2 separate regions of the Homo sapiens genome follow, and region 2 is linked to region 1. Evidence: fine-mapped expression QTL. A gene starts in region 1. The other region holds a variant in brackets. All regions are shown on one strand. Distances are between the middles of the regions.

Region 1 (15,333 bases):
CTGAAGATGGGGCTCCAGGTGGTGGCAGTGCCCCAGCCCCACCAGTCCTTCCTGGGGAGAGGGTCACGGCTCAGTGGCTGAAGGGCTGGGGGGCTTGTCTGAAAGGAGTGAATGCCTGCCCATCAGGCACTTTCGGAAAAAGCTGGAAACCAAGATTTCCCTGAGAAGTCCTGGGCTTTCTGGTGTTGGGAACTATAGGAAGCAGCCGGCTTCTGCTTCCCCTCCAGGGTCCAGGAGAGAATTTGTTTTGGACAAACCTTCTAGGCCACATGCTTGGAGCACCTCTGACCTCACCCAGTGCCATGCCCCCCAGCTGAGGCCCGGCCCCTGCATGTGTTCAGGGATGTGAGGTCAGGGAGTGGTTCAGGGATGTGAGGCCTAGCACTGGTCCGCAGGCCTCTGGGAGCCCTCTGGGCCCCTTGCAGAGCGGGGCAGCACTTGGCTGAGGACTGCGAGGGCTGAGCTGTCCTGACCCAGTCCTGGGATAGCAGAGCCGCCCACCCTGCCTGGGGGCTCCTGGGTGTCTCCTGCAGCCACGCCACTTGTAGCTGGGTTCTGTCCTGGGACAGCAGAGACACCCAGCCTGTCTCAGGTCTCCAGGGCGTCTCCTGCAGCCACGCCACTTGTAGCTGGGCTCTGTGCTTGTTGTCAGTGCAGCCCCAGCAGCCCAGAGCGGTTCACAAGCTCCCAGACCGATTTACCTGCTCCAGTGAAACTCCTATGAGGGCACTGAAACTTCCCATTATTACAGGGCTCCGGCCCACAGCCATGGGGATGCCCCTTCCCACACCAGCTCCTGCAACTGGAAGGCTGTGGGCCACTCACTCTGAAGCCTCCCCTTTCCAGACACAAGGGCAGGAGTCAAGGGCAGTGGCAACATCCCCCAGAGATGCCGATGGACGGTGTTTCAACCTAAATCGGACAGCCGCACTCCCTCCCTGGCCACACAGCAGGACAGAGACCAGGACACAGCGGCCCACCCGCTGCCCTCACACTCCCCTCCTCCACGGTGTGAACTAAACCGCACACGTGGCCTGTTACTCGGACAAGGTGGGAAGGTGTGGCCCCACCCCCTCCTAAGACATTACGATGCGGAGAACCCCCAAGCCCACCCTCAACTGTGTTCACTGGAAACAGCCCAGCAAGGGCTACGTGTGCCTTCCGGTTTCACATTTGGGAAGTGGGTAAAATGCAGTATTGACAGTTCTCAAATATTGGTGTTGATCTTAACTGCTAGAGATACCGTGAGGGAAAAGAGCGCTTTTGTTCAACGTTTATGAATGGATAAAGGAGGAACTGAAACCAGCAAAGGGGCGGCTGGCCCTGGACCAGACGCGGCTTCGCCGAGGAGCTGTGGGCAGGGTGGGCCGGCACCTCCTTTCCTCTCGAGAAGGATGTGGAGAGCAGGTGGCTCGTGCCACCTGCCTCCCTGGCCCTCGTCCATGCCTCTGCACTGACCGCTGGGCTCCTGCCGCCCGGGGATGTGGGGAAAGGCCTTGGAGTGGGATGGAGGTCCGCGTGTGGGTGTGTGGCAGGTACCGGTGGATTGAGGTCCATGTGTGGGTGTGAACCTGGGTGTGAGACTGTGTGTGGGTGGGTGTGTACGTGAGTGTGCATGTGCACGTACACCTGTGTATGTATGCGTGTGAGGTGTGTGAACTGTGAGTGTGCTGTGGCTGTGAGCGTGTGCACACGTGAACTGAGCGTGACAGTGCGAATGTGTGTGCCGCGAATTCCACTGGCCACATGAATGCAGGCGAGGCCGCTCCGCTAGGCTGTGGATTTCCAGCATGGCCACGCTGGTTGCCTGTGTTGTCTTGTTGACACAGGATGGAGAAAGAACGATGCAGGATGCATCTCTGAGCCTGGCTCAGGCACCCAGAGGGAGCTGGGTTTGGGAGCAGCTGCTCTGCGTAGCCCTGGCTTGGATGCTGCGAGCCAGGTGGGCCTGGGGTGAGCGCTCGTCCCTGGGGTGGGTGGAGGCCCCCATTTCCCTCTCAAGTCCCCTCACTGTACATCACAGCCTCCTCCCACCCCCGCTCTGTTTAGAGAAAGCCCAGAGGCCCCTCAGGCTGAACCTCCAGCCCTCTTCTCTGACCATGTGGGTCTCCCTGTTTCCTTCCGCTGGCCTGGTCTCTGTAGGGCTCACTGAGCCTGCAGTCTGGGACCCACAGGCTTGAGGATTGAGGCTCGGGGCCTGGGAGCCTCCCTGGGATGTTCTAGAAAGCTATGGATGGGGCACCTGTCAGGGAGACAGCACACGGAGAGCCTCTCCCACCTGGGTCCTACCATAGCGGCCTGGGCCTGTGGGCTTAAAGAGCCGCTCCGGAATTTAACTGGGCCTGAGGGCTGGTGCCCTGTGAGGAACCCGGGATAGAACCTGGGGACAGAGGCCTCCATTAGTCCTTGGGAGCGGCAGGTAGCCCATGGGGTCACTGTGATCCCGGCACATTGTGGGAGCGTGCGCTGGGATGGGGAGGGGTCACTGTGAGCACGGTGCGTCGTGGGAGCGTGCGCTGGGATGGGGAGGGGTCATCGTGATGATGGCACAGCACACTCTCCTGTGGTCTAGGTTTAGGGATGCCAGTGAGACCCGCTGAAGCGTTGGGGCCCTACCCGAGGTGAGGCGTGCCCAGGTCTGGGGACTCCTGTCTTGGGGCCCCTCCCAGGAGAACCACCCCCCTCCTCTGGCAGGAAGCCCCCAAAGCTGTGGAGGAGCCCTGGGCCCACAGACAGCATCCCTGCTGCTGGGGACCCCAGGCCTGTGCGGGTGCCGCTGCCATGGGGCTGATGGGGCCCAGCCCAGCAGCCCCTGCCTTTGCTTTCCCGGCTTCTCTGCGGCTCTGTGCTTTTGCTGCCCCATTCCAGGCCGGAAGGCTCCCGCGCCTCCATGGATCTTCATGATTTGGCCAACCAGAGTGAGCACCGTGAGGAAGTGGAGACAGACACAACTTTCAGCAGCAGAAGACAGGATAATAAAGTTGGGTTTGGTTTATGATCTAACGTGACCATTAAAAGTGTTTAATAAACAACGTTAAAGACTACTTAGTGGCAGATGCATCCGGCAATGCTTAGCATAGCCTCATGACTGTCAATACGCACAGGCTTGAAAAACACCTGCAGGATACATGTGGGCATGTTAGTGTGGGTTATCTCAGCAGGGCGGCATATCGAATCTCGGTGCCCTTCTGTAGTGTCTATATTTTCTACAGTGAAGCTGGGATACTTTGGTGAGCAGAGGCATTGTTTTCAAAGTTCCCATTGGTACTTCCATCACATCCCCGTGTGGTTCTGTCCTGGACCGGCTGCCCACTGAGGTCCCACTCGCCCCTACCCTGCCCTGTCTGGCCAGCTGGGTACCTGCCCAGGAGGAAGAGGCTCAGTGTTTGGGGCCTGTGTTATGCCCTGAAAAGCCACTGCTGTTGGGTGAGGGCCCATGAGGCCTTCAGTTTGCCATCGTCATGTGCTTCTGAAGAGCCAGGATGCTGTCCACTGTTTGTCTCCTGGCGGGACAGAATTCCACTCAGTGCATATCAGGGGCAGTGATGGGGCTGGGGGTGTGAGGGCTCAGCTGTGCCCTGAACTCCTTCACAGTCTTGCAGGAGGGGTCATGGAGCCATATCTGGGTTTGCAATTTTTGGAAAGTTACGTGACGATCTGCACTCAGGAATGCTGAGTGTTCGGCAGGCCCCATGAACAGTGATCAAATGTGACGCTGTGTGTCCCACAGCCTAAGGGCTGTGGCAGAGACCAGGAGGGCCATCAGCTCCCACAGCTTTCGAGTCCACCTCAGGGCTCCTCCTTGCTGACCTCCCTGGGTTGTCAGTGGAGACAGCCACCCTCCCACAGAGCACCTGCCTGAAATGGGCCAGGCCGCCCCTGTGCCCTGGCTCTTGCTGCACATGCTGAGGTCAGCACGGAGGCGCCCTCGGGCACCAGCATGCCCTCGGGTTTGCAGCTTGTCAAATATCCCATGAAGGCAACCTGACCAAATGTGCTCTAACACCACTGGACCAATGGAACGTCTTGGGCTGAACAGATGCAGCCTTGCATCCACCGCCTGCCACCACCCTCTGTGTACACCCCCTGCACACACCTCTGCACACACCCCCCCTGCACACTGTTGCACATACCCCCTGCACACAGCCTGTGTACACTCCCTGCACAGATCCCCTGCACACAACTCCCTCACACATCCTCTGCACAAACCCTGTGTATACCCCCTGCACACACCTCTACACATACCTTCACACACCATGTATACCTCCTGCACACACCTCTGCACACACCTCCTGCACACACCTTGTGTACACTCCCTGCACACTGTTGCACACACCCCCTGCACATAGCCTCTGCACACAGCCTGTGTACACTCCCTGCACAGATCCCCTGCACACACCTCCCACACACATCCTCTGCACAAACCCTGTGTATACCTCCTGCACACACATCTACACACACCTCCTGCACACACCTTGTGTACACCCCCTGCACACTGTTGCACACACCTCCTGCACACACCTCCTGCACACACTGTTGCACACACCCCCACACATAGCCCCTACACACACCTCTGCACATACTGTTGCACACACCCCCACACATAGCTCCTGCACACACCTCCTGCACACACCTCCTGCACACACTGTTGCACACACCCCCACACATAGACCCTGCACACACCTCCTGCACACACTGTTGCACACACCCCTTGCACATACACCCTGTATATACCCCCTGCATACTCCTTATGTACAGCACTGCACATACTCCCTGCAGAGACCCTGTGTGCATCCTCTGCACACACCCCTTCTGTATACTGTCTGCACACACCCCCTACATGTACACCCTCTGCACACTCCTCCTGCATACACCCCATGTACACCTTCTGCACACACTCCCTGAACACATTCTGAGTACACCTCCTGCACACCCCGTGTACAACCTCTGCACACACCCCCTACACACTCCCCTACACACTCCCCTACACCATCCACACACACTCCCTGCACACAGCCCCTGCACACATTCCCCATGTACACCCTCTGTCTGTGTATACCCTCGTCTACTACCACCATACGTACCCCCCACCACTACCCTGCCTTGTCTATCACCCCCCAGGCTGTGACATACCAGGGATGTTGCCAACGAGCTGGTCTAATCTGGGGTGAGGGTTTCTGGGTGCCCCTAGACACCAGGAGAAAGGCGGGGAGGGGACACCCCTGGGGGTCTGGATTCACTCCACCAGGCGCTGGGCCACAGTGGTACGGTGACACAGTAGATGTCTTGAGCAGGATTAAAGTCTTCCCAATAAACAGGCTGAACTCTGTCTTCCTTGAAAGCTCTGTAGAAGGACCTCACAAGGATAAACACAGCGAGACCCTCCAGGGCGCGGTCAGCCACGAGCCACAGTGCTGGGCCTGTGACATCTCTGGAGGTTCTGGGGTGGAGAAGGACCGGCCGTGGGGAGTGACTGGCTGGGGAGAAGCTCAGCTCCCGCCCACCTCTGGGAGGCCCGGGGCTGGACGGGAGGTGCAGCAGACAAGGCTCCGGGCGGGTGCTGGGGTGTCTGGAGGGGTCCCCGCGGGGGGGTCGGGTTGGGTGGGGAGTCTAGGTGAGTCGGGGGTCCCCGGGGGCGCTGGGTTCAGGGTGGGAGCGGAGTGTGGATGGGGCAGGGTCCCCATGCCCACCACCAGCCGCGATTCCACCGCGCCTACTCGGGGTTTCCCCGGGAGGACACCGCGTGTGTCAAGGGCCGGGGCCTAGAAGGCGGCCGCGCCCAGGGAAGCCTTGACAGGGAGCTATCTGGGGCGGGGGCTGGGGTCGCGTGGCCAGTACCTGGGAGAACCGCCATTCAGGAGAACCCCCCGCCAGGCTCTTGGTTCCGCCCACGCAGTCCCGCCCCCTCCCCCAGCCACGCCCCTCGCCCCGCCGCGCAGGCCCCGCCCCGTCCCGCCAGGCTCTCGGTTCTGCCGACGCAGGTCCCGCCCCTCTCGTAGCCTCGCCCCGCCCGCCGCGCAGGCGCCGTCCGAGGGCTCCGTTTGAAACATGGCGCGGGCTGGCCCTCGGCTGGTGCTGAGCGAGGAGGCGGTTCGGGCGAAGAGCGGCTTAGGGCCTCACCGCGACCTGGGTGCGCCGGAGGGCGGGCGGGGGTGCAAGCGTGAGGTGGCGGGGGGGTGGGTGCCGAGCTTCCCGGGGCGGCGGCGGACCGTGGGCAGGCGGGACCCGTCTACGCAGGCGCCGCGGGCGTCCGGAACGGTCGCGGGCGAGCGGGGCGCGCGTGTCCAGGTGAGCGACCCACCCCCCGTGCCCAGGTGCGGCCCCTGCCCGCGTTCGGGTCCCGGCGTCCCGGCCCCTGCCTGTCTATCGGGTCACTGGTTCCGTGACTGGGGGTTACATCCGCTGAGAAGAGGGAGCCGGCCTTGCTGTCCAGGAGCGCAGCCCGCCCTCCCGCTGGGGATCACCTCCCTGGTTCTCCTGGGCCCACTCTGTGGTGATTGTTGCGCTCGGCCTTCTTGAGGATGTTGGTGGCCGGTTTCCTTCTTTTTGGCTTATTTTTGTCTGGTTTTGGCGTCAAGGTGAAGCCGAGCTCATAAACTGCTGAGAAGTGTTGCCTTCTCTTATATTTAGAAGAGGTTCTGTAGAGTGTGTGCTCATTGTTTGAATGTTTCCTGGAATTTTCCAGTGAAACCATATGGACATGTCAATTTCTGTTTTTGAAGCTTTTAAATGACAAATTCTGTATCTCTGGTTGTTAGAGAACCGTTCATATTAGTTCACCGCGAGTCTTGGCTGTGTGGGGTTTTGTGGCATTGGCTTATTTGAGCTAACTTGTGGAGTGTGTGTGTTGAGTTGTTTCTGGTGTTCTGTTGTTAGCCTGTTAATGTCTGTGTGTGGTCTGCAGGTGTTACTGGACCAACAGGTTCAGTCAGGTGCTGTGGGGGCCACAGGCCAATACACTGAGACAGTGGGGTTTGCAGCAGAGAAAGAGTTTAAGGCTGGCAGGGGCCCAGCAGGGAGGTGGAAGGAGGCCTCAATCCATCTCCCCAAGGAGATCTGAGCGGTTTTTTTTTTTTAGACGGAGTCTCACTCTGTCGTCCAGGTTGGAGTGCAGTGGCACAATCTCAGCTCACTGCAACCTCCACCTCCCAGGTTCAAGTGATTCACTCAGCCTCCTGAGTAGCTGGGATTACAAGCACGCGCCACCATGCCCGGCTAATTTTTTATATTTTTAGTAGAGACGGGGTTTCACCATGTTGGCCAGGCTGGTCTTGAACTCCTGATCTCAGGTGATCCACCTGCCTTGGCCTCCCAAAGTGCTGGGATTACAGGCATGAGCCACCTACACCCAGCCTGAGCTGGGGGTTTTAGAGGAACAGGACTGTGAGGAGCTGGAAGATTGGTGTTGTCAGTTGGTGGAGGTAAGGGCCATGGAATTATCAGGGTGTGGAAACTGCATTCTTTGGTGAATCCGCTTGCGGGGCCCTTTAGACCAGCTGGCATCAGTCCCCAGGTCCTGAAAGAATATCTCAAATGGAAAACTTAACGGTTTATAATGTCCAGGTTATTATCTGTAGAGTGGTTAAGGGGAACTGTAACCTCGTGACAAAATCCAAGTGATCCTGAGGCAGTAGGCACCACAGGGCTCTGAGGAAGCAGGTGAGAGGGCAGCTGACCTCGGGACATGCCGAGTCCTCCCTTCTTCCCTGATTAGTGCTACAAGGTTTACAGGGATATCCCTTTTCTGTTCCTGATGTTGATAATCTGTGTATTCTTTCTTTTTTAGTCTTGCTAGAGGCTTGTGAATGTTATTGATAGTTTCAAAGAACCGACTTTGGGTTTGATTTTTCTCCAGTGTTTTTCTAGTTTCAAATTTCATTGATTTCTGCTTTTTTTTATTTCCTTCTTTCTGCTTGCTTTGCATTTATTTTATACTTTTCTAAATCCTTGAGGCAAAACTGTAGATTATTGATTTGAGACTTTCCTATTTTCTATTATAAACAGTGCCACAAGTTTCCCTGTAAGCACTGCTTTAGCTGTATCCACAAATTTTGTTATGTTGTATTTTAATTTTCATCCAGTTCAGCGTATTTTAAGAATTTCCCTCGATACTTCCTGTTTGACCTGTGAATTTTTTTTTTTTTTTTTTTTTTGAGGTGGAGTCTCGCTCTGTCACCCAGGCTGGAGTGCAGTGACGCAATCTTGGCTCATTGAAAGCTCTGCCTCCTGGGTTCATGCCATTCTCCTGCCTCAGCCTCCCGAGTAGCTGGAACTCCTGACCTCATGATCCGCCCACCTCGGCCTCCCAAAGTGCTGGGATTACAGGCATGATCCACCGCGCCCGGCCTGACCTGTGGATTTTTAAGGAGTATGTTTTTAACGTTCCATGTGTGGATATTTTCCTGTTATTTTTCTGTGTGATTCCATTATGGCCAGAACATAATCTGTATGATTTTAATTCTTTTAAATTTGTCAGGGTTTGTTTTATGATCCAGCATCTGGTCTATGTTGTTGAATGTTCCAGGTGCACTTGAGTGTGTGTGTATTCTGTTGTTGAGTGGAGTGTTATGTAAATACATAAATATCAATTAGATCCTGTTGGTTGGTGATATTGTTCAGTTCTTCTGTATCCTTGCTGATTTTCTGTCTAGTGACTCTATTAATGACTGAGAGAGGGGTCTGGAACCCTTAACTGTAATTGTGGATTTGTCTGTTTTTTTTTTCACTTTGTATGTTTTGAAGCTCTGTTTGTTGAATTACATAGCTAGGATTTTTATACCTTCTTAGTGGACTGACCCTTTTAGTATATGTAGTCTTCCTCTTTTTTTTTTTTTTTTTTGAGACAGAGTTTCCTTCTTGTCCCCCAGGCTGGAGTGCAGTGGCACGATCTTGGGTCACTGCAACCTCTGCCTCCCGGGTTCACATGATTCCTCTGCTTCAGCTTCCCGAGTAGCTGGGATTACAGGCGCCTGCCATCACGCCTGCCTAATTTTTGTATTTTTAGTAGAGACGGGGTTTCACCATGTTGGCCAGGCTAGTCTCGAACTCCTGACCTCAGGTGATCTCTGCTGGGCTCCCAAAGTGCTGGGATTACAAGTGTGAGCCACGGTGCCTGGGCCTTGTTCCTCTTTTTTCCTGGTAATTTTCTTTGTTGAGACATCTGTCTTATTTGATATTACTGTTGTTACGGTAGCTTCTTTTGATTGGTTTTTGCATGGCGTATCTTTTCCTATCCATTGCTTTGAACTTTTAACCTACCTGTATCTTTATATTTGAAATTAGTTTCCTGGTTCATTATTTTTATTCACTCTGCTAATCTCTGTCTTGTAGTAGTGTTTTAGGCCATTTACATTTAATCTAATTGTTAAATATTAGAACTTAAGTGTGCCATTTTATTGTTTTTTGATTGTTTCCTGTGTTTTTTCTTCTGTTTCCCTTTTCCTGCCTGCTGTGACTTACTCGAATATTTTTAGTATCTCATTTTGATTTATCTGTTATGTTTTGGTGTATATCTCCTTGTATGGTTTTCATAGTGGTGGCTATACAAATTACAATGTATTTATGTAATTCAACACAGTTTACTTGTACAGGTATTTTACTACTTCTAAGTGAAATATAGAAACTTTATCACCATTTAGGTCTCTATCCTCTCCCCTTTACAATTTAGTTGTCTTAAGTATTTCCTCTGCATACCTTGAGAACCGTATTAATATTATGATTTTTTTTAAATACCTAGCCTTTTCAGTAACTCAGGAGGAAACATATTTATCTGCATGTTTATCTGTTCTGTTATTTTTTCTTCATTCCACGATGCTCTAGGTTTCTTTCGTTTTTCCTTTATATTTGAAAAAATTTTTTCAGCAGTTGTCTTAGGGCAGGTCTGCTTGTGACAGATTCTCTTAGTTTTTCTCTACGGTTTTACAGTTTTCATCTGTCATCTCCATTTTGCTATTAAACTGCTCTTGTGATTTTTTGTTATTGTATTTTTCTTTGAAATTTCTATTTGTTTCTTCTTTATATCTCCTGTTTCTTTGCTAAGACTAGTTTTTCCTTTGTCTCAGGTGTTTGTAATTGCTCATTGAAGTATTTTTTATGACAGTCACTTTAAAATCCTTGTTAGACCTAAGTTCTGTGTTCTCTCTTGGTGGTATCTGTTGATTGACTGTGTTTTCTCATTCAAATTGCCATTTTTCTGGTTCTTGGTCATTTTTTATCATATTGTGGACATGCTGGGTATGATGTCATGAGACTCTGCTTCCTGTTTAAATCCCCTTACTTGAGAAGACTCCTCACTCGAGCCTGCTGGGTGCCACCTTGTTGCCGGGACAGTCATGGAGCTCCTGCCTCACCCACGGCCTCTGGCAGACCCTACTGGCTGGGAGAGTGAAGGGCACCACCTCGTTCTAGCCAGGCCGGGACAGCAGTCAGGATCCATTCTCACACCCCGGTGCTGGCTGCTGCGCAAGGCCAGGTGGACGAGGGGTGTGTGTGTGTGTGTGTGTATGTGTGTGTGTGTGTGCGCGCGAGTGGGGGTTTGCTTGCAGGAGGGCTGATGATGTGAAGAGAGTCTGTCCTGCAAGGCCCCTCCTGGTGCCAAGTGGACGAGGGGTGTGTGCGTGTGTGTATGTGTTGTTGTGTGTGTGGGTGGGGGTTTGCTTGCAGGAGGGCTGATGATGTGAACAGTGTGTGTGGTTGCAGGAGGGCTGATGATGTACAGAGAGTCTGTCCTGCCAGGCCCCTCCTGGTCCTTTGGCCATCGAGAGCAGGCTTACGGTTTTTGGTCTTTTTGTGTTTCTGGGCTGCCGACTTCTGTGGCACCCAGAGTGGGATGTGTAGTAAATAAGCATAAACAAAACCCCAGAGTCAAGCCAGGGACTCAGCGCTGGGTTCTCTCTCGAGTGCCGAGGCCCCTGGCTGGTTGGCTTCTGTTCCTTTCAGTCCCCCAATGCTTGTTCCGTATATTTTCCTCCAGGGCAGTGGGTCTAATATGCGGGAGGAGCAGGTTGAAATGTGTCCTCTCCATGTTGCCTGGAACTGGAAGAGCTCAAACCAAATTTTAAACTTAATCAGAACATATTCTGGTTGGGTGTGGTGGCTCATGCCTGTAGTCTTGGGAGGCCGAGGTGGATGGATCACCTGAGGTCAGGAGTTCGAGACCAGCCTGGCCAACATGGTCAGGAAACCACAAGACTGTCACGGAAACCCTTTTCTTTCAGTAACATGAGCCAAAGGTCACTGCACCTTGTCCCCTCCTGACCCTGTCCCGGTGGCAGGGTGTGGGGGACAATGAACTGCTTGTCTGTGTGCCTCCAAGTGGGGCAAAACCAGGCAGCATCCTGCTGTTTAGCTGCACCTGAGACGATGCCTGAGGGCTACCTGAGGAAACAGGGAAACGTGGGGTTTTAGCCGGATGTGGTGGCGTGTCCCTGTAATCCCAGCTACTCAGGAGACTGAGGCGGGAGAATCACTTGAACCTAGGAGGTGGAGGTTGCAGTGAGCCGAGATCGCACCACGGTACTCCAGCATGGGCAACAGAGTAAGACTCCATCTGAAAACAAAAACAAAAAAACCAAAACATATTCTAAAACATAAATGTTCCCAGGAAAGTATTGATGTATTCGGATCTAAACTGCCTTTTTGATTACGGAAACTTTCATCTTGTAATTAATGTTGATGTAGTGACTGCTTATGGGGTGCGTGGAGCTTGCACAGCCCGACCACAGTTGTAACAGGAGGACAGCAGACAGGTTACCCGACGAGTGGGTTTCAGATGGTGATGGCTGCAAGGGGTGACAGAATTGAGCAGCCAGAAGTGGAGGCGGGAGATGAAGTAGAGGGGTGTTCCTGGGGAGAGACGGTTTTGGAGGGAGAGGCAGTAAAGGTGGGAAGAAGCGTGTGGGCTTGGAGGTATTGTAGAGATAAACATAAGCCGAAACTTCAGGTACGTTCCTTGCTCGTCAGTGCTGATATTCCAACTCCAAAGGAGTTGCACTGAGTTCTAGGTGCCTCTTTCAGATTACGAGGATACATATCTCTCTGAGAAAAGCTGAAAATACAGAAATGTGTAAGAGGGAAAATAAAGGGATTTATTCCACAATAGGACACATGTGTTAAAGTTTGTCTTTCAATCTTTTTACATATACTGTTAGAGGAAGAAATGTTTTGAATGACCCTTGTCAGGCACAGTGAGGAAGGCTTTATTCAGAACCATTGAGGTGGGCCTGGGGCCACTGCGCTGGGATTTTGCAGTGGGGGAGAGAGATGGAGCTCAACTCCAAGTACAGCAGGGGCCGGGGGGAGTTTATAGCCTAGGGTCAGGGTGGGGGCAGTGGATGGAAAATGACTGAGAGGACACATGAGGAGTAAGGGGATTTGGGCTAAACCAACTGAACAGGATTATTGCGAAAGAGAGGCCAGGGTGAGCAGACACCACCTATGGGATCTGGGGATGAGGAACCTGAGCAGATACTGAGGGTGGGGGTTTTGGCCGCACTAAACTGGACTTTACAAGGAAGGGCACAGATGGCCGAGGAGAAGATTCAGGAGCCTGAGTAAAGTTGAATTAAACCAAGAATCTGTGTCAGTTTCTACTCCATATCCAACACCAAGAACTTGACCGTTATTATAATTGTTTTCAAAATAAAAGATTAAAATCTTACAATTTTTCTATTCTTAGCTGAGCTTCAGTCATTGTCTATTCCTGGAACTTACCAAGAGAAGATCACCCACCTGGGACATTCTCTGATGAGTTTAACAGGTCTGAAATCTTTGGATCTCTCGCGCAACTCCTTGGTTAGTCTGGAGGTAAGTTTTAGGTCTCTTTCTTAAAATTTATTGCTATCAACATCAGTGGAAAGTCCATTCACAGCAGAAACGGAGTCTGTTTTGTAACCCTCTGCTTACATCTGTATACGGTACACTTTGTGTTGCGTATTTTTGTGTTTACCGTGGGCTACATTTCATACACATCACGTTACGTTGTGTTGTCGCCCTCTGATGACGATGATTATATCTTTAAAGGAAATGAAATGAGACCCCAGAGACTTACTGAGTGGCAGTGCAGTGGGCCTGGGGCTGCCTCCTGGGCTCCTGGCAGGGTCACCCTGGAGAGAGATGCCTAGGTGGTGGTGAGGGGAGCTGTGCACAACTACCATGGCCTGATTGGCCCTGACAGAACCGTGGGATGCGCCTGCCCTGAGCCCGATGCCTGAGCATTATGGAGGCTGCGTCTGCATGGCCTGATTGGCCCGGACAGAACCGTGGGATGCGCCTGCCCTGAGCCTGGTGCCTGAGCATTATGGAGGCCACGTCTGACACCAGCTCGGGAGTCTGCTCCAAGTCAGATGCGGACCTAGCCCAGGCTACACCCAGTGCTGCCTCATCTTTCCCCGTTCCCAGGCCTCAGCTTTCTCATCTGTGAAGGGGGGGCTGATGGTTCTCACCCTGTAGGGCGGCGTGTGGATTAAATGAAATTGTGCGTGCACATCACTCAGCTTGCTGCACGCTGAGGCCTCGGTAGATATTAGCTGTGCTTAGTTGCGTCACATGTGGGTTCCATAAACGACCGTCTCACCGCGTGGGGCCCAGAGAACTTCACAGATGAGAACGTTTCATTTTTCTACTTTTCCTGGTAATGACATGGAGTTATTGCAAATAAGTTTATACAGTTGGTTGGTCAGTGTGTGTTGCTGGCTTATTTCACTGTGTATTTCTTGTTTAAAGTGTGAATGAATTCACTGTGTTTTCTGTTGACAGGGCATTCAGTACCTGACTGCATTGGAGAGTCTCAATCTCTACTACAACTGCATCTCCTCGTTGGCAGAAGTGTTTCGGCTCCACGCCTTAACCGAGCTCGTGGATGTGGACTTCCGGCTGAACCCCGTGGTGAAGGTTGAGCCTGACTACCGCCTTTTTGTTGTGCACCTGCTCCCCAAGCTCCAGCAGCTGGGTAGGCATCAGGCAGGGCCACGCTCATGCTTTTGTCCCCGTGGGGTATGGGAGTCGGGGAGTCGTAGTGGGTGTCTGTGTGCTCAACGTCACATGCTTGATTCCTTCTGGAACGGGGAGTTGGTTTTCTACGCTGGTGGCTTGAGTTCCTGCAGACACACAGCTCGAGAGGCCCTGTGTCTGCACAGGACAGGGCTGGAAGTTGAGCACCCTGGGAGGGCGCAGGGCTGGGGCCGTGGGAGCACAGCCCCGGACCAGGCTGCTACGTCCTGTTCTGGCTCTCCGCGTCATGGCTGTTGGACTTGGGCACGTTCCTGAACATCTCCTGTCCTGTTTCCTCGCATAGCCCCCAGGTATCATCTCAGGTGCAGCTAAACAGCAGGATGCTGCCTGGTTTTGCCCCACTTGGAAGCACACAGGACAAGCAGCTCATTGTCCCCCACACCCCACCACTGGGACAGGGTTGGGAGGGGATGTGCAGTGACCTTTGGATCATGCTCCTGAAAGAAAAGGCTTTCCATGACAGTCTTGTAGGCAGAACTTCCAGGGCCCCCACAGCGATGCCCAGTAGGGAGGGTCCCTGGGTTGGGGCAGCCGCAGGTCACCTTCCCATCTGCCTCCTGCCTCCCCGGAGGCATTGTTGCTGTTGCTGTTGCTGTGAGCACCTGGTGGTGTCTCTGCTGACCCTACCCCGAGTCACAGATCCAGGAGAGAAAGCTGGGGCCTCAGCCCAGGGGCACACTGACCAGAGTCCATGGGGAAGAAGAGGGTGCAGGGTCTCTTACCTCAGTCCTCCTGTGTGAAGTGGGGGGATAAGAATGCTGTGTTGACATGTCGTGGTGGGGAGACCTGAGTTAATATCTGTAAGCTCCCAGACTGCCCGGCATGGCCAGGGGCCTATAAACGTTCCCTGGTTGCTTCTGTTGTTAGGGTCAGACCTACCATGCACCGCTGTTCGAAAGCTGCCCCTCCTTCTGAACCTAGGACCTTATCAAAAACAAAAGAATCACAGAATCCCAACTATCTTGTTAGAACAAAAGACCAACAGAATCACAGAGGACAGAGCACTTTCCCCCACTGCGAGTGCCCTGAACAGGCTGTTTTCCACGGCTGTGGGGAGCATTCAGGTTCTCTTAGAGAACTGAGATTTGTATGTCAATTTCAAGTAAACAGCAGCTAAAGCACGTTGGTGGGTGATGTGCCTGGCCCCTGGGTACTGCCCGTTGTGGGCGTCGGGACTGAGGGCCAGCTGGGGTTTTGCCACCCACCAGATGAACACCCGGCAGCCCTCACCCTGTCAGCCCCATGAAGTTCGTGTGACGTCAGCAAAGCTGCACACCAGAGGTGGGAAAACAGGTGGAGGAGCACCTAAGCGCCTCAGCGAGT
Region 2 (15,333 bases), 48 kb after region 1:
ATGTTAATATTAATCCACTTTAAGCTTATAGATGCTTACCTCGTTTGGGTTTCATTGAGCTTCTTGGACCTGTGAGTTCATATTTTTCACCAGATTTGGCAAAGTTGCAGCCACTACTCATATTTCTTGTCTGACCCCGTCTCTCACTTCTTCCTCCCTGTCCCCATCTGGGACTCTAGTTAGCTTTCTGTTAGACTGTGATACTGTCTCTCAGGTCACTAAACGTGATGCTTTTTCATCCTTGTTCTCTCATCCTTTCCTTTAGGTGGTTTTATTGTCCTGTTGCGAGGCTTACTAATCTTTTCTTCCACTTGCCTAATTTGATGTTAAGCTTGTATAGTGAATTTTTTATATCAGAAATTAGGTATATTTTTGTTCTAAAATTCCATTTGAGGCTAGGCGGGGTGGCTCACACCGTAATCCCAGCACTTTGGGAGGCTGAGGCAGGAGGATCACTTGAGGCCAGGAGTTTGAGACCAGCCTGGCCAACATGGCGAAACTCCATCTCTGCTAAAAATGAAAATTAGCTGGGCATGGTGGTGGGCACCTGTAGTCCCAGCTTCTTGGGGGGCTGAGGCAGGAGAATCGTTTGAACCTGGGAGGCGGAGGTTGCAGTGAGCCAAGATTGCAGCACTGCACTCCAGCCTAGACGACAGAGCAAGACTCCGTCTCAAAAAAAAAACAAAAAAACTCCATTTGATTTTTTTCATTAGTTTTATATCCCATTATGTTCACGTTTCCATTAACTGCTTAACCATGTTTTTAACAGGTTTACTAGAAATTCCCAACTGTTCCAAAGTGGTGGTACCCGCAGGCCCGACTGCTAGTTGTGTATGACCACGTCTGCCGGTCCATGTTTTCAGCACCCATTGCCTGAAGTGTTAGCACCTTCACTCCGGTGGGTGTGGGGTAGTGGAGGGAGTGGGGTGGTGGAGGGCGCGGGGTGGCGGAGGGCGCGGGGTGGTGGAACGTGTGGGGTAGACCTCTTTCTGGTTTCATTGGCTTCTCCTTGTTCAGCACCTTCTCATGTGTCTGCGGCTCATTGGGATTTCCTGTTTGTAAAGTACCTATTCAAGTATTTTCCCTACTTTTCTATTGGATGGTCTGTCTCATTTATTTGCAGGTGTTATTTATGATTCTGGGTAGTAGTGCTTTGTGAATTACATTTGCAAATAGCTTTTCTTGTCTTTTTACTTCAATGGTGTCTTTTAAGAGAAATTTTAAACTTTAATATGGCCCAATGTATCAATATTTTCTTTTATGATTAAAGCATTTTGGATCCTAATTTTTAATAATCTTTACTTTGCCTTGATCATAAAGATACTCTGTTACCTTCCAAAGGATTTTATAGTTTTGTATATTTTGGATTTTAGATATAGATTCTACCCAGAATTGATTTTTGCGCCTGTTGTGAAGCTTAAGGATCCAGTTTCATTGTGTTGCAGACATAAGCCCAGTTTTCCCAGTCCCGGCTGCTGAAGATTCCTTTGTCAGGATGATCTCTGTGTCCGTTTCTGCATCTCCTTGTCTGTCTCTGCCAATACCACACACTCTGGGGCGCGTACCTCCATCTTATGTTAGGATGTCTTGGCTGTTTTTGACCCTTTGTGTTTCATACATTTTAGAACTAGCCGGTCGAGTTGGGATTTTGTTTGGGATTGTGTTGAACCTGTAGATCAACTTGGGAATCATTGACGTACTTGCAGTACTGGGTTTTACAAGCTCTGAACATGGTATCTGTCTCTCCAAATGTTAGGGCTCCTTCAGCGGGTGTTCATACAGCCTGATACTTTTCACAGTGGTCTTGTATGTCTTTTGTTACATTTAATCCTAGGTCCTTGTTATTTTGCGATGCTGTTTTTAAAAATGTGCTTGGATTTCATTTTCCTAATTATGTGTTGCCATTTCATGGAAATTCATTTTTGTGTATTAATTTGTATCCGGCAGTCTAGTAATTTTAATCATTTGCCTGTAGCTGTTTCCTCATTTTTAGGCACACAGTCATGTTTTCTATGAGTAATGGGTTTTCTTTCCCATTCCTGTTGTTCTGGATTTTTACTTTATGTTTTTATTTTTGTTTTGTTTTTTGCTTTTCTACACTGGTCGGAACCCCTAGTGCAGTGCTGATTAGAGGTGGTAACAGAGTGGGCATCGTTGTCTTCTTCCTGATATTCAAAGGGGTGATAAATTCTCACCATTTATCCACTCACTTGTAATGGATTTTTTTTGCTTGTTTTAAAGCTTCTTCTATCAATAATTCGCCTCAAGAATGGATGACTTTTATCACTTTTTCTGCAGTGATGGAGATGACCATGATTTTTATCATTTAATATATTGATGTGTTTAACGACCATAATTTGCTTTTGTTAAAAATAAACCTTGAATTTCTGAGATAAGTCCAACTTAATAATTATGGATTTTCTTTTACATACATATTGTTATATTTGGTTTGTTAATATTTTGTTTAGCATTTTGTGGCCCAGCTATACTACCTAGCACCTGTGTTTGGGCCCTGATTTCCTCGTCTGTACAATGGGGAAATAGTGGCTTCCTCACAGGATTGTTGTGAAGGTGAAATGAGTTAGTATGAATAAGACTCTCGGGCAGCATCTGGTGCGTCCTGAGCACTGGGTAGCTGCGTGCTCTAGTACAGTGGTTAGTATCTCTCTTCACGGGTGACAGCCACTTACGATTTTCCTTTGTAATGCTGTTCTTGAAAGGATTCGCATCTTTACACCACCGTAAAATGAGCTAGGTTGTGTATTCTTTCTCCATTCTCTAGGAGAATTTACTTAAGATTATAATTATTTCTTCCATGGATGTTTGATGGAACTTGCTGGTGAAGTCACTTGTGCCTGGAACTTTCTTTGTCAGGAGGTTTGACTACTGATCCAGTATAACTCAGTGTTCCAGGATGTGGCAGAACCGTTCACACAGACCATCCTTATGTCCCCCCTGCCTTTACGCTGCATATCCCTGAGTTGGGCTGGGGCCGTGTGACTACTGAGCAACAGCCTGTGTGTGGGACTGAGGTGAGTCATTTCAGGGCCAGAGCAGCGGGAGCTGGTGCGTCACTGTGATAGCTTCCCTGCCAGTGACCTGGGCAGCTGCATCACAGGATTAGGAAGTCTGTTTGTCTTCTGTTAGAAGAGATCTCTTGTTATTCCTGAAGTTGGACGTTGTGTGAGTAATACATTTTGTGTGTCCAGCCACTGAAGTGTTAGGGGTTTTCTTTTGTAGCTGGCAGTGACTTCCCCTAAGTCACAGGGCTGAGCAGGCTTTCCATTTCTTTTCGAGTTAGTTTTTGTAAGTTATGTGTCTCTAAGAATTGGTCCATATTGTCTTAATTTTCCATTTTGGGGGGTATAACACACATAATTTGAATGGCTTCAACATTTGAAGTTGTGTGTGTCCCTGTGGCAGAGATGTAGGGACAGTTGTGTCCCTTCAAGCGAGACCTTGCCATCCAGGGGCAGGGAGTACAGGGGTAGAGACCATCTCCAGCCACCATGCTGTCAGGCTGTGCCTGGGCTCTGGAGCTGAGGACACACTCATCCAGGCAGCTGCAGCCAGTGTCCAAGCAGGCAGGGCCTGGGCCTAATGCGAACCACAGGGAGCTCCCTAGCAGGTCATCTCCAGAGCCTCCCTGAGGCCTCCCGGCCTCCTCCCCTTGCTGCTGTTCAGGGGCATTCCTCACCAGTGAGCCTCTTGTGATACAAAGGCCACCTCAGCATCTGCCTCCCGGGGACTCAGCCCATTCTTGGCCATTCTTCATATTCGTTATTTGAACTTTCTCTTCAGTCCTTTCAAAGAAACACCCTTTGCCTCCATTTTCTTTTCAATTTCTGATCTGATCTATCATTAGCCATGCTGAAATTACAAATAAATATGGGTTAAAATATTATTTTATCAATTTCCCTGTTCTGTGTTTCTTTCTCTTGTTTTATCAGCAAAGCTGATTTTTTTTTTTTTTTTTTTTTTTTTTTTTTTTTTTTTTTTTGAGATGGAGTCTCGCTCTATTGCCCAGGCTGGAGTGCAGTGGCGTGATCTCGGCTCACTGCAAGCTCCGCCTCCCGGGTTCACGCCATTCTCCTGCCTCAGCCTCCCGAGTAGCTGGGACTACAGGCGCCCGCCACCACGCCTGGCTAATTTTTTGTATTTTTAGCAGAGACAGGGTTTCACTGTGTTAGCCAGGATGGTCTCAATCTCCTGACCTTGTGATCTGCCCGCCTCGGCCTCCCAAAGTGCTGGGACTACAGGTGTGAGCCACCGCGCCCGGCCTCAGCGAAGCTGATTGATCCACCATCTCATTAGTTTAAATCTGCCATCTCATTTTGTGCTGTTTGTTCTATTCATGGTTTTTTCCCTCTTCACTTTTGCCACTTTTGGATGATCTCCTGTCATCCCGCATGTCCCTCTGCTCGTTTGGAGACTGTACTCTGCTTCTGTCCCATGCTTATGGCATGTGTGCGTTTAGTCCATGCTCTCACCCACCTCTGGGGTTGGTTCCTGGAGCGCGAGGCGCGCGTCCCTCTCCATGCTCCTGTTCTGCTCACCTGTGGGGGTTCCCAAGTATTTTTATGAAACATTTTAATCTCACAAAGTATTGATATAGCCACTGTTAATTTGGAGTTATTGACCTATTTATTCTCTTTGCTCCACTTTCTTCACAAACCAGACATGCCATTTGAGATCACCTTTGCTTTCTGCATTTAGAATTTCTTTAAATGTCTGCTGGTGGCAAATTCTCTTTTCATTGTCCAAAAATGCCTTTATTGTATCCTCATTTTGGAAAACTGTTTCGCTGGGCTAGTATCTCAGGTTGGCATTTTTTTTATAGCAGCCTGTGATGACATTGTCCTGTTTTGGGGGCTCTGGTGGTGTTCACAGTGTTCATGTCCATTCCCCTTGAATCTAGACCCCACCCAGGGCTACACCAGTGCTAGAGCAGGACTCACACCTGACAGATGGCTGGTCCGCCTGCTCCTCCTTCACGGTCCTCCTGTCTAGATGAGGAAGCGAGAGACTCCCTCGGGAAAAGGCGACACAAGGGCCTTGGCCCTGTGAGCTTCAGCCCAGTGGAGGCACTCAGCACACTCCCCACCTGGGGCCCCTCCAGTACCTATCCCCTGTTATCACCTGTTACAGACACGTGTGCTCTGAGGAACAGAGAAATCCATGTTTTAACACCTTTATTTGTCACTTTACCAACTTGACACACAATGTTAACGACAGCAGACACAGGAGCAGTGTGCACACAGACACGAGCTGTTTCACTACAGGTTTGCAAGCCAGGCTCAACAGCAAGTCCAACAGGCAACACCACACCTCTCACCTGCAGGAGGAACAGCAGGGCCACCCCACCCCGCGGACGTCCGCGGTGAGTGCGGTTTAGACATCAGCAGAAGTGGCTTTCAGAGTCAGAACAGCCATGACGTGGACATCACCCGTCACACTGATAAAGTGATGCACTCAGTACTCCCTAATGTTAATCACACAGTGTAAAAATATATTGCACATATATATATATATATATATATATAAATTTGTTTCCCTTTCTTGAAAAAAACTTAGTACAAACTAGTAGTTACACGATCCCTTTCAAGTTTCTCTTAAGTTGTGCAGATTTCCTTTGTGGTTTGGCTTGGTTTAGTTTTTTAAGAGGTCGAAAGAAAGAAGTAAAGCATCTCGATGTGCCCAGGACTCCCCATCACATGCCCAGGGACAAACGCTGCACCCTGGACCACCAGAGCTCACAAAGTGTTCAGTAGTAAGAGGAGGAAAGATGCAGGTTCAGTGTTTGAAGGACGTTCTAGCCTATTGATAACATCACGGTCCAGCCTCATCTTCCCCCTGTGCCATCCCCTCGTGGTGTGTGCTGTGGGGTGGGAGGGTGGCCAGTGCACGCGTGATTGCCCACAGGAGGAGATGAGCTGGGCCAGTAGAGGGACAGGTAAGTGTCCAGGGCCAAGGCATCTCCATCTCAACTCCTCCCCACTCCACTTGTACAGCAGGAGCCACAGGCCTGTGTGAAAACACAGGACAGGCCCTGTGCCAACAAAACACCATTCACAAAAGCAGGCGGCCGCAGCAGCCCAGGATGGGGGCTGGGGTAGGAGGTGATGCCCACGCAGGGCTGCTGTGGTCAGCCCTGAGCTGGCATCCCTGGGGCCCGGGATGGAGTGGCACCAACAGGCAAGTGGGGCGGCCACAGGACATGATGCCAGCCCAACTCCACCATCTGCGCCCAAACTTGGACAGGATATTAGAAGGTGTAAAAGTAGTCCAGTATAAATATATATCTTCTACAATATTTTAAACATATAATTTGAACTTTAATTTTGGTAACGCTAATTGTTAGGAACACTACCTGGTTGCTTATCCTATAGCAGTAAATTAAAAATAAATAAGCACTCTGGCGTGAACAGTCTTCTCAGCGCTCTCCCTCTGCCTTTCTCCTTTCCTGATGCTGAGACACGATCAGCACTGTCCTCCCGACAGAACCTATTCCTGTGTCCTGGTGTCACCCCCAACAGAACCTGTCCCTCTCTCCTGGTGTCACCCCTGACAGAACCTGTCCCTCTCTCCTGGTGTCACCCCCGACAGAACCTGTCCCTGTCTCCTCTTGTCACCCCCAACAGAACCTGTCCCTCTCTCCTGGTGTCACCCATGATAGAACCTGTCCCTGTGTCCTCGTGTCACCCATGACAGAACCTGTCCCTGTGTCCTGGTGTCACCCCCGACAGAACCTGTCCCTGTGTCCTGGTGTCACCCCTGACAGAACCTGTCCCTCTCTCCTGGTTTGCAGGTTGTGCAGTTTGTTATTCACAAATACACATTTATTTTCTGTTGAACCGTGGTTAGTAGAAGCTAATTGGCAGTGCATAAAAACATGCAGAAGAGAACACACACCTGCCTGAATTCACAATATTCAGAAACTGACTGAGGAAGATGCACGGGTCTGTTATGTGCAGTGGGGCTGCCGTCCAAACAATGTTCTGTGTTCGGAGGCGGCACACAGATGCAATTACGGATTCCACAGACAAGTTGTAACTGACAGTGGTGACCACTATGTCCTCGTGACTTTATTTTTGCTACCCCTCCTGGCTAGGTGACAGAGATGGGAGCCGAGTGGGTGTTTTCAAAGATTCGCTTTGGAGCTGAGTGGAGAAGGGTGCTCTCCTGGCTCCCGCATGTCTGAGAAAAGCCTGAGGGCCGCTGGGGGAGGGCGTGCCTCTAACTCGTGGGCACCAACCCTGGAAGTGTGGAGGGAGAGTGGGGGCGTGGGGCCTCTCCCTCCAGGATCCCAGGGTGCTCCAGGCCAGGACGGGCAGGGTGCCACAGCAGCCTCGATCTCATTCACGAAACCCACAGGCGTGGCCTAGGGTTTGGGATGCACGCCACGATTTTCTCTCTCAGAGTGAAGGGACCACTTCTGTGAATGAGCTCACCTCCAGGGGCCAAGATGGGAGCCATGAGCCCCGCCGCTCCGGCCACTCCAGCCAGGTCTGGGAAGGGCTGTGGTGAGTCGGTGCTGGCCGTGTGGGCGAGGTGACCCGTCGGTGACAGGGCCTGCTCCCTGCGAGGTCGGGTGGTGCCCGGGCCGGGCGGAGGCTCTTCTCGTGCTCAGGGCCGGTTTCTGGTGTGCTCCCGATGCGCTTGGCTCTTTTCTCGAGGCCGTGCTTGTCTGAGGCCAACCAGGGACCAGGAGGCAGCGTCCTGGTGCCCAGCACCTCTCCTCAGTGTCCCTCGTCCCCACAGACCGGATCAGGGCCTGGCGAGCCTCTGTGCCTGCCGTGCGGTGTGAGGACCCGCGGACCCCAACCCGCCCTTCCCTCCGTCCTGACCCGGCGCCAGGCTCAGCTCCAGGGCGAGGTCCTCTGGAGTCATGTTCGTTCTGCGTGGCTTGGCCGTGACTGTGGGGACTGGGCTGCCCACGGACAGAAAGGAGAAACGCAGCCTGTGACCAGGAGACGCAGCCCAGGGTGGAGCCGCGCTGGGGCCAGGGAGGCCGAGGAGGGCAGGAGTCCGAGGGTGTAAGGGTGCCAGGGCCTTCCGGGTCTCAGGCTTCGGGACCTGGGGAGCCACCCTGTTTGGTGACCAC[T/C]CGTCCTCGGCCTTTTCAACACAAGGGCTTTGGAGTTGTGATGGGCTGTTATCGGGTGATTCCGGTGGCCACTCGTCTGTGATCGGGTGATTCCGATGACTGCTCGTCTGTGATCGGGCGATTCTGGTGACCGCTCGTCTGTGATCGGGTGAGTCCGATGACTGCTCGTCTGTGATCGGGTGATTCCGATGACTGCTCGTCTGTGATCGGGCGAGTCTGGTGACCGCTCGTCTGTGATCGGGTGAGTCCGATGACTGCTCGTCTGTGATCGGGTGATTCCGATGACTGCTTGTCTGTGATTGGGCGATTCCGGTGGCCGCTCGTCTGTGATCGGGCGATTCCGGTGACCGCTCGTCTGTGATCGGGTGAGTCCGATGACTGCTCGTCTGTGACCGGGCGATTCCGGTGACCGCTCGTCTGTGATCGGGTGATTCCGAACCGCACATTCAGAGTTGTTTTCAAATGTTTCCGCACGTTAGTTCTGCCTTTCACACGCGGTCCAGCCAGGTTCAGCGGGGGCACAGGGCTGGGCTTGGGCACCCCCCGCCTTCCCCAGGCCGGTGAGGTGACATCCTAAAGGAGCCACGAAGCCTGAGGTCCATTTTTCCTTGCTCTTTATTTCCAGGCACTGAACTTCCCAGCCCTGCCGTGGAAGCTGCCTGCCAGGTCCTCCCCATCCTCAGGTGGAGGCTTCTCTGTTGAGGGGCCTCGGAGACCGCCCCCCAGCCCTCAGCGGACCATGCTGGCTGGGAGCTCCGCCCTGGGGCTTCTGCTCTGCTCAGGTAGGGGGAGTCCTTCCACGGAGCTGTGGCCGCAGCAGGTGCACTCTTGGGAGTCGGGGAGGCGGGTGGTGCTCATGCGTGCCAGTGAGGGAGGGGCCTCGCCACCCTCCTGTACTGTGAGCCTGGCCCTGGGCAGCCCTCTGCCCTGGCCAGAGCCTGACCGTAGCCACGGGCTAACAGGCTCTGGAAAAGTTTCCCCAGGACTGCCGCAGGCTCATCCGCAGGTAGACTCCAGAACCACGGCCCAGCAGGTCACACGTGTGGCTGTGGCTGTGTGCGTGCCAAGGGACAGTGGCAGTGTGCCATTGTGACAGCGGGTGGCCACACCCGTCAGCCTCCCCAGGAGGGAGCAGGAGCGCCGGCTTCTCCCCAGGTGCAGACAGGCAAGGGCGGGCCGCCTGGGTGTGTCCTGGCAGTGTGGAGTGTCCTGGATGGGCTCTGCTCAGCCCCCTGCTGGCAGAGAAACCCCCACAGACACTGCAGGACTGGGGGTCCTCCCTAGTGTCCTGCTCTCCGGCGGGGGGGATTGGCCAGGAGAGGTTAGGCTGAGCCATTTTGGGAGAGTTGAAGAAGGTGCTTGGGCTGTGGCAATGGGAGGTCTGCGAGCAAACAGGGTGCAGCTAGTGAGGACGGGCGAACGGGAGGGCCGGGCAGAGGCTCTGTCACGCGGTGAGGCGAGGAGTGTCTCGGCACTTCGTGTCTCTTGCCTGGCAACACCACAGGGACCGGACATTCTGAATCTTCCCAGACCCGCTCTGAGAACATAGGCAGCCACCGCATCTTCTCAGGAAAGCAAAGCGAGCCTACTCTACCCTCACAGTCCAAGCCACTGTGGTCAGCCGGGAAGCCGCCCACTGCCCCTGACGGCTTTCGTTTTACCTAGGTTGCCCTTGGCACAGAGCTGGCCTGTAGGCATGTGTGCACAGGTGTGTCCATGTGACCGGCTTCCCCACACATGTGCCAGGCGCCCAGCACCCCCGCCAGGTGGCCTCACTCTGCCCTCTGCCCAGGAAAGCAGGAAGGCCCCGTGGTGTCCGCTGCACACAGGACAGGCCTCGGGCCCCACAGACACCTCCCACGTCCGGTGTGGGGCCAATTCCGTGTTAGTTGCCTGCTGGTTGGGGTTAGCTCCTGCCACCCTCAGGGCTCCTGGAAGGTGTCTGCCGCTCAGGAGGTCAGCACAGCCTCCTGTTGCCATGACAGCCAGCTGCTTTAAAACGCCCCTTTGACCTGCAAACCACGTGCCCAGTGTGGTGTGATCCGCGAGACACTTTGGAAATGGCTGAGGACGAGGCAGGTGTATTAGGAGGGTCAGCGAACTGGGGCCCAAACCTGGTTTGAGAGGGGAGTGCTGGGGGCATCCGGTAGGAGGAGGGGCAGGAGGGAGGCCTGGGCCTGGCCGCCCCCCAGCCCCCTCTGGGGCACCCGTCTGAGTTCTGCCCCAGTTAGTACAGGAATGTAATGAAGTGCGAGGTGACAGAGTCCCTGCTCTGGGGACACCGGCAGTGCCGCGAGGCATGGAGCGGGGGCTACTTGCCCCCTTGCACCTTCTGGTCGTAGGTGCCTGCGTGCTTGTAGCCGGACACATAGCCTGACTCGTCCACCAGATCCACGCGGCCAGCCTTGCCCTTGCCCTTGCCAGAGGGGTCGAAGCGCTCCTTGTGGGAGCCCGTGAACTTGGTGGTGTCCGTGAGCCTCGACACTGTGGGCGACGAGATGGCTTTCTGCAAGAGGAGCAGGAGGAAGGGGGCAGGTGAGTTGCGAGCCAGGTGAGGCCAGCAAGTGAAATGGCTGTGCCCTGGGCAGGTCTCCCAGCGGTGGGGCACTGGGCAAGGGGCATAAACCCTGGGATTTATGCCCCTTTTAATTCTTATTTTTACCTCTCCTGACCCTGGGGCAGCCTTGGGCCTGCGGGGTGCCACAACCCTAACAATTGCCCAGGTCCACCTGGTGTTTATGTAGTTGGGGACCCCACCACCTGCACCCTCAGAGGGAAGGGGCTGTCAGAACAGCCAGGCCCCACCCTCCAGGCTATGCCCCCCCAATCCATGCCCCTTCAGACCAAGCCTCCCCAGGACCCCCCCAGGCCACGCCGACCTGGCCATGCCTCCCAGGACCCACCCACCCCCTCCCAGGCCAACTCCCAGTCCATGCCCTTCCTGACCACGCCTCCCCAGGCCTCACCCTCCAGGCTATGCCCCATTCATGCCCCTTCTGACCACACCTCCTCAGACCCCACACCAGGCCACGCCCTCCTGACCACGCCTCCCAGGACCCCCCCCAGGTCACGCCCCCAATCCATGTCCCTCCTGACCACCCCTCCCCCAGGCACCACCCACCTTCCAGGCCCCGCCCCCACCCCCTCCAGGCCCCGCCTTCCATCCCCGCCCTGCTCACCGTCACCCCTGAGATGATGGGCGCCTTGCCCTCGATGAGCCTGTGCACCTCGCGAACGGCCTCCTCGCTGCTCTTGTCTTTGAATCGCTTCTTGGCGAGCTCCTCCAGCGCCTCCTGGAACTGCTCAAAGGTGATGGTCCGGCAAGACTTCCCTCTACAGGGGCACAGGCGACTTAGGGCTGGGCGCGGGCCGGCCCAGGGCTGCCCTCCCCACGCGTGGGTCTGAGCAGAGCTGGACAGCCATGGCCCAGCAGCCCACAGGCTTCACCCACAGGCGGCCGCCCTGGTAGCACTGCAAATCCAAACTGTCTTGGAAGAAAGCTTGGCGGAAGCAGGTCCTCTATAAAGCTGGATGCTCACACGGCCCTGCAGGCCGCTCTGACACAGGGTGTGTGCGGGTCTGCACTCTGCTGGGGCAGTGCCGGAGGCCATTAGGCAGCGGAGCCCACCTCCTCCTCCCGGGGCCACCACAGCCCCGCCCAGCTGCGCCGGGAGCTGGGGGTCCTAGGACCTGCTGGGGCCCCGGCTCTGCCTGTGTGTGTTGGGGTCCTAGGTGGAGGTGTCCCCCACACAGGAACATGGTTAGGAGGGGCTGCCGCCCCCGGACACTTGGCAGCATGGGCGCAGGCCCACGCCTCAGATGCCCTGGCTCCAAAACCCGCCAGGCGGCCCCGCTGTGCCCTTGCACTGCTCTGGCCTCAGAGGTGCAGAGCCCGGTGGGCCGGAGGTGCCATGAGAAGCTTCTGGTCACACAACACGCCACATCTAAACACAGTCCACGCCTTACAACATCCTCCCACCACAGGCCATTCAGGCAATTTTAGAGGGTTCTAAACTGACTCTTGGTTTTTATATAATAATTCTAATTAGAAAACATTTTTCTCCTCTGACCAGATCTACCACAACTAACCCAAAGTGGGGTTTTTCAGTGTTTAAAACAAGAGATCCTGTGGATGAGGCTCAGCTCTGCAAAAGGCACCTGCATTTCACCAGGGAAGCCTCTGGACAGCGCGAGAAAGGCTGCACCCAGCAGGCCAAGCATTCCGAGGGCACTCCCAGCTGCAGAATCCACAGTGACCAAGAGTCAGGGGACAAATGACCCATAAAACCCCAGCAAGCCTTTCCAGAAGTCAGTGAGCAGAGGGCCTAGAATAGCCAAAACGATTTCAAGAAATGAGAACAGAGTCAGAAGACTGACTACCCAACTCCAAAGCTCATCGAGGCTTGACTGCAAAGTGGCAGCGACGTGGGCACGGGCACGCGGCCAGCCCCGCAGCCCAGGGGGAGTCTGGCTCAGCCACATGCATGCTGCCCCCCCGATGTCTACAGGTGCAGAGGCAAGCCAGAGAGAAAGGACTGTTTCTTCCACAAGTGGAGCTGGAGCAACTGGTGATCCCTGTGCAAATTAAAATGCACTTTGGTCTATACTGCACACTATATACAAAACTAACTCAAAATAGATGACGGTCCTAATTATGAAACTAAAACTTCTAGAAGAACACCAAAGAGAAGATCTCTGTGACCTGGGGTTAGGCGAAGATTTCTTAGAAATGGCAACAAAACATGGCCTATAGTGGAAAAAATGGATGAACTAGACTTCATCAAAACGTTCGAAACTCTGCTCTCAGAAGACACCGTTAAGGGAATGAGAAGACAAGCCACAGACTAGGAGACATGCCTGAGAAAGGACTTGTCTCTGAGATACACAAAGGAACCTTAAAACTCAGCAGTAAGAAAAAAAATCCATGTGAAAAGACGGGCAGAATATTTGAAGCAGACACCACCAGAGAAGACACGTGCATGCAGACAAGCACACGGAGAGGGGTCCGCGTGGGCCCCATCAGGGAAGTACAGACAAGCACACGGAGAGGGGTCCGCGTGGGCGCCGTCAGGGAAGTACCGACAAGCACACAGAGAGGGGGCCGTGTGGGCGCCGTCAGGGAAGTACCGACAAGCACACAGAGAGGGGGCCGTGTGGGCGCCGTCAGGGAAGTGCGGACAAGCACACAGAGAGGGGGCCGTGTGGGCGCCGTCAGGGAAGTACCGACAAGCACACAGAGAGGGGGCCGTGTGGGCGCCGTCAGGGAAGTACCGACAAGCACACTGGAGAGGGGTCCGCGTGGGCCCCATCAGGGAAGTACCGACAAGCACACGGAGAGGGGTCCGCGTGGGCCCCGTCAGGGAAGTACCGACAAGCACACGGAGAGGGGTCCGCGTGGGCGCCGTCAGGGAAGTACCGACAAGCACACAGAGAGGGGGCCGTGTGGGCGCCGTCAGGGAAGTGCGGACAAGCACACGGAGAGGGGTCCGCGTGGGCGCCGTCAGGGAAGTACCGACAAGCACACAGAGAGGGGGCCGTGTGGGCGCCGTCAGGGAAGTGCGGACAAGCACACTGGAGAGGGGTCCGCGTGGGCCTCGTCAGGGAAGTACCGACAAGCACACAGAGAGGGGGCCGCGTGGGCGCCGTCAGGGAAGTGCGGACAAGCACACGGAGAGGGGGCCGCGTGGGCGCCGTCAGGGAAGTGCAGATGGAAACCACAGCGAGGCCCCTGCACACTCTCCAGGGGGCTCAGACAATCAAATAAACTGCCGGCACCTCGAGCTGAGCAGGCCGCGGGGTGGGGGCCTCGTCCACACCCGGCCGAGCAACGCGGCAGAGCCACTGTGGACAGCTTCTCATCACAGCCAAAGGTGGCCCAGCAGTCCCGTTCCTGGGTCCTTGCTCAAGAGAAATGAAAACAGAGGCTCACACATAAACGCAAATGTTTACCACTGTTCTGCTCGTAGTCACCAAACCCCAAACAATCCAGTGCCCTTCAGCAGCGGCCAGACCACAGTGCTGTGATGTGTGCGCACGTGGACAGCACCCCCACCCCTCGAGAACAAGCCCAGGATACGCACCCAACGCGGTGGGTGCCAAGTGGCCAGGCTTGGAGCCAGGCACGGAGGTGCCGCTGGGTGATTCCCAGACCCCAAGGCGGATGCTGTGTTTAAACAGCACCTGAGGGTTCCCATACACTTTACACGCGTGTCCTAAAGACACAACAGACACCATCAACAGCGCTGAGCCAAAGAAGAAATCGCGCTGAGAAACACACCAAGTGCTCGGGGTCCCACAGCTCAGACCCTCACGCCTCATGGGGTCCCAGGGAGGGGAGCGGAGGCCTCGCTGTGTCCGGAGGGGGCTTTGGGGAGACAGAGCCCCAGGGCGGGGCCTGGACTGCTGAGGGCAGCCACGCAGGGCACATTCCAGACCCGCCGGCCATAGGGCGCTGTTGTCCAGCAGCATCCCCCAGGGGGCGCTGGTGAGCCCGGTGAGCCGGAGGTGCCCTGGGCAGCTCTGTGGCGTGGGGGTCCGCGGTGTTGGGGGTGGATTTAGCCCCTTGACGCGCTCGGCGTGGACACCCGCACGTTCCCTGTGGTGCTAGAAGAGCCAGGCCACCCCAGGCAGCCCACAGTGCCTGGAACTGACAGTGCCCATTGGGCCCTGTGGGGGTGTTGACTCTCTGGGGCCCTTGGGGCCTCTGTCTGTCCTGGGCCGTCAAAGGCTCTCCTGTCTTCTATTCCCACCCTGCCCAAGCTGACATGCGGACGCCAGGCCTGACTGCCAGCCTGGTGACCAGTGCTGAGGCACGCAGCCCTTTCTGACGGCCTCGGAGCCAGGCACCACCAGCATGAGTCACTCGGCGGGAGGGGGATGGCTGAGGGGCTCCCCCATCAGAGGCGACATTCAGATCCGGACACCTGCTCTGCGCGCTCCCCGAGTGTCTCGGGGAAAGGGCGCCCGGGTCTCTGCCCCACACGGGCGGGGAGCTCTCCCCAGGAGACCCGGGTGCCCCCCGCCTGGGGCAGTCCTCAGGAGTTCTAGGACAGCGGTGCCTGCCTCTTCCCCAGAGACACTCAGTCTGGCTGCCCGGCTCTCCTGACATAGAGTGGGCCTGTCCTCCAGAGACCAGGGTGCTGGAGGAGCCTCCGAGTGTGGAGCTCGGCATCCTCATTGCCCATGCTCTCCCCAGCCCGGCGCCCTGCCCCAAAGCCGGCCCAGCAGGA

Evidence for each region. PIP is the estimated chance that this variant, and not a neighbour inherited with it, causes the effect.
Region 2: its variant is fine-mapped to the expression of CEP72 in whole blood (TOPMed, PIP above 0.99). The same link has a PIP of 0.9 or more in testis.

Annotation. Positions count from the first base shown.
Region 1 is chr5:606,314-621,646 of GRCh38, forward strand. It overlaps CEP72 (centrosomal protein 72), which reads left to right and starts at 6,027. Exons shown (of 12, transcript NM_018140.4): 1 at 6,027-6,130; 2 at 12,677-12,804; 3 at 13,756-13,948. The coding sequence starts at 6,049. It overlaps CEP72-DT (CEP72 divergent transcript), which reads right to left and starts at 5,897. Exons shown (of 3, transcript NR_103444.1): 1 at 5,839-5,897; 2 at 5,134-5,440. It overlaps LOC105374608 (a long non-coding RNA gene), which reads left to right. Exons shown (of 8, transcript XR_007058672.1): 8 at 752-1,297. RefSeq lists enhancers at 4,950-5,880, 5,881-6,810, 12,263-13,462.
Region 2 is chr5:654,687-670,019 of GRCh38, forward strand. It overlaps TPPP (tubulin polymerization promoting protein), which reads right to left. Exons shown (of 4, transcript NM_007030.3): 3 at 11,284-11,437; 4 at 5,176-10,610. The coding sequence ends at 10,416. It also overlaps a transcript of CEP72 not described here. Among named protein-coding and RNA genes, the nearest start is that of TPPP, 31 kb to the right of the region's middle. RefSeq lists enhancers at 7,727-7,896, 9,198-9,367, 10,785-10,954, 14,365-15,119. The variant T/C (reference allele first, on the strand shown) is at 8,105.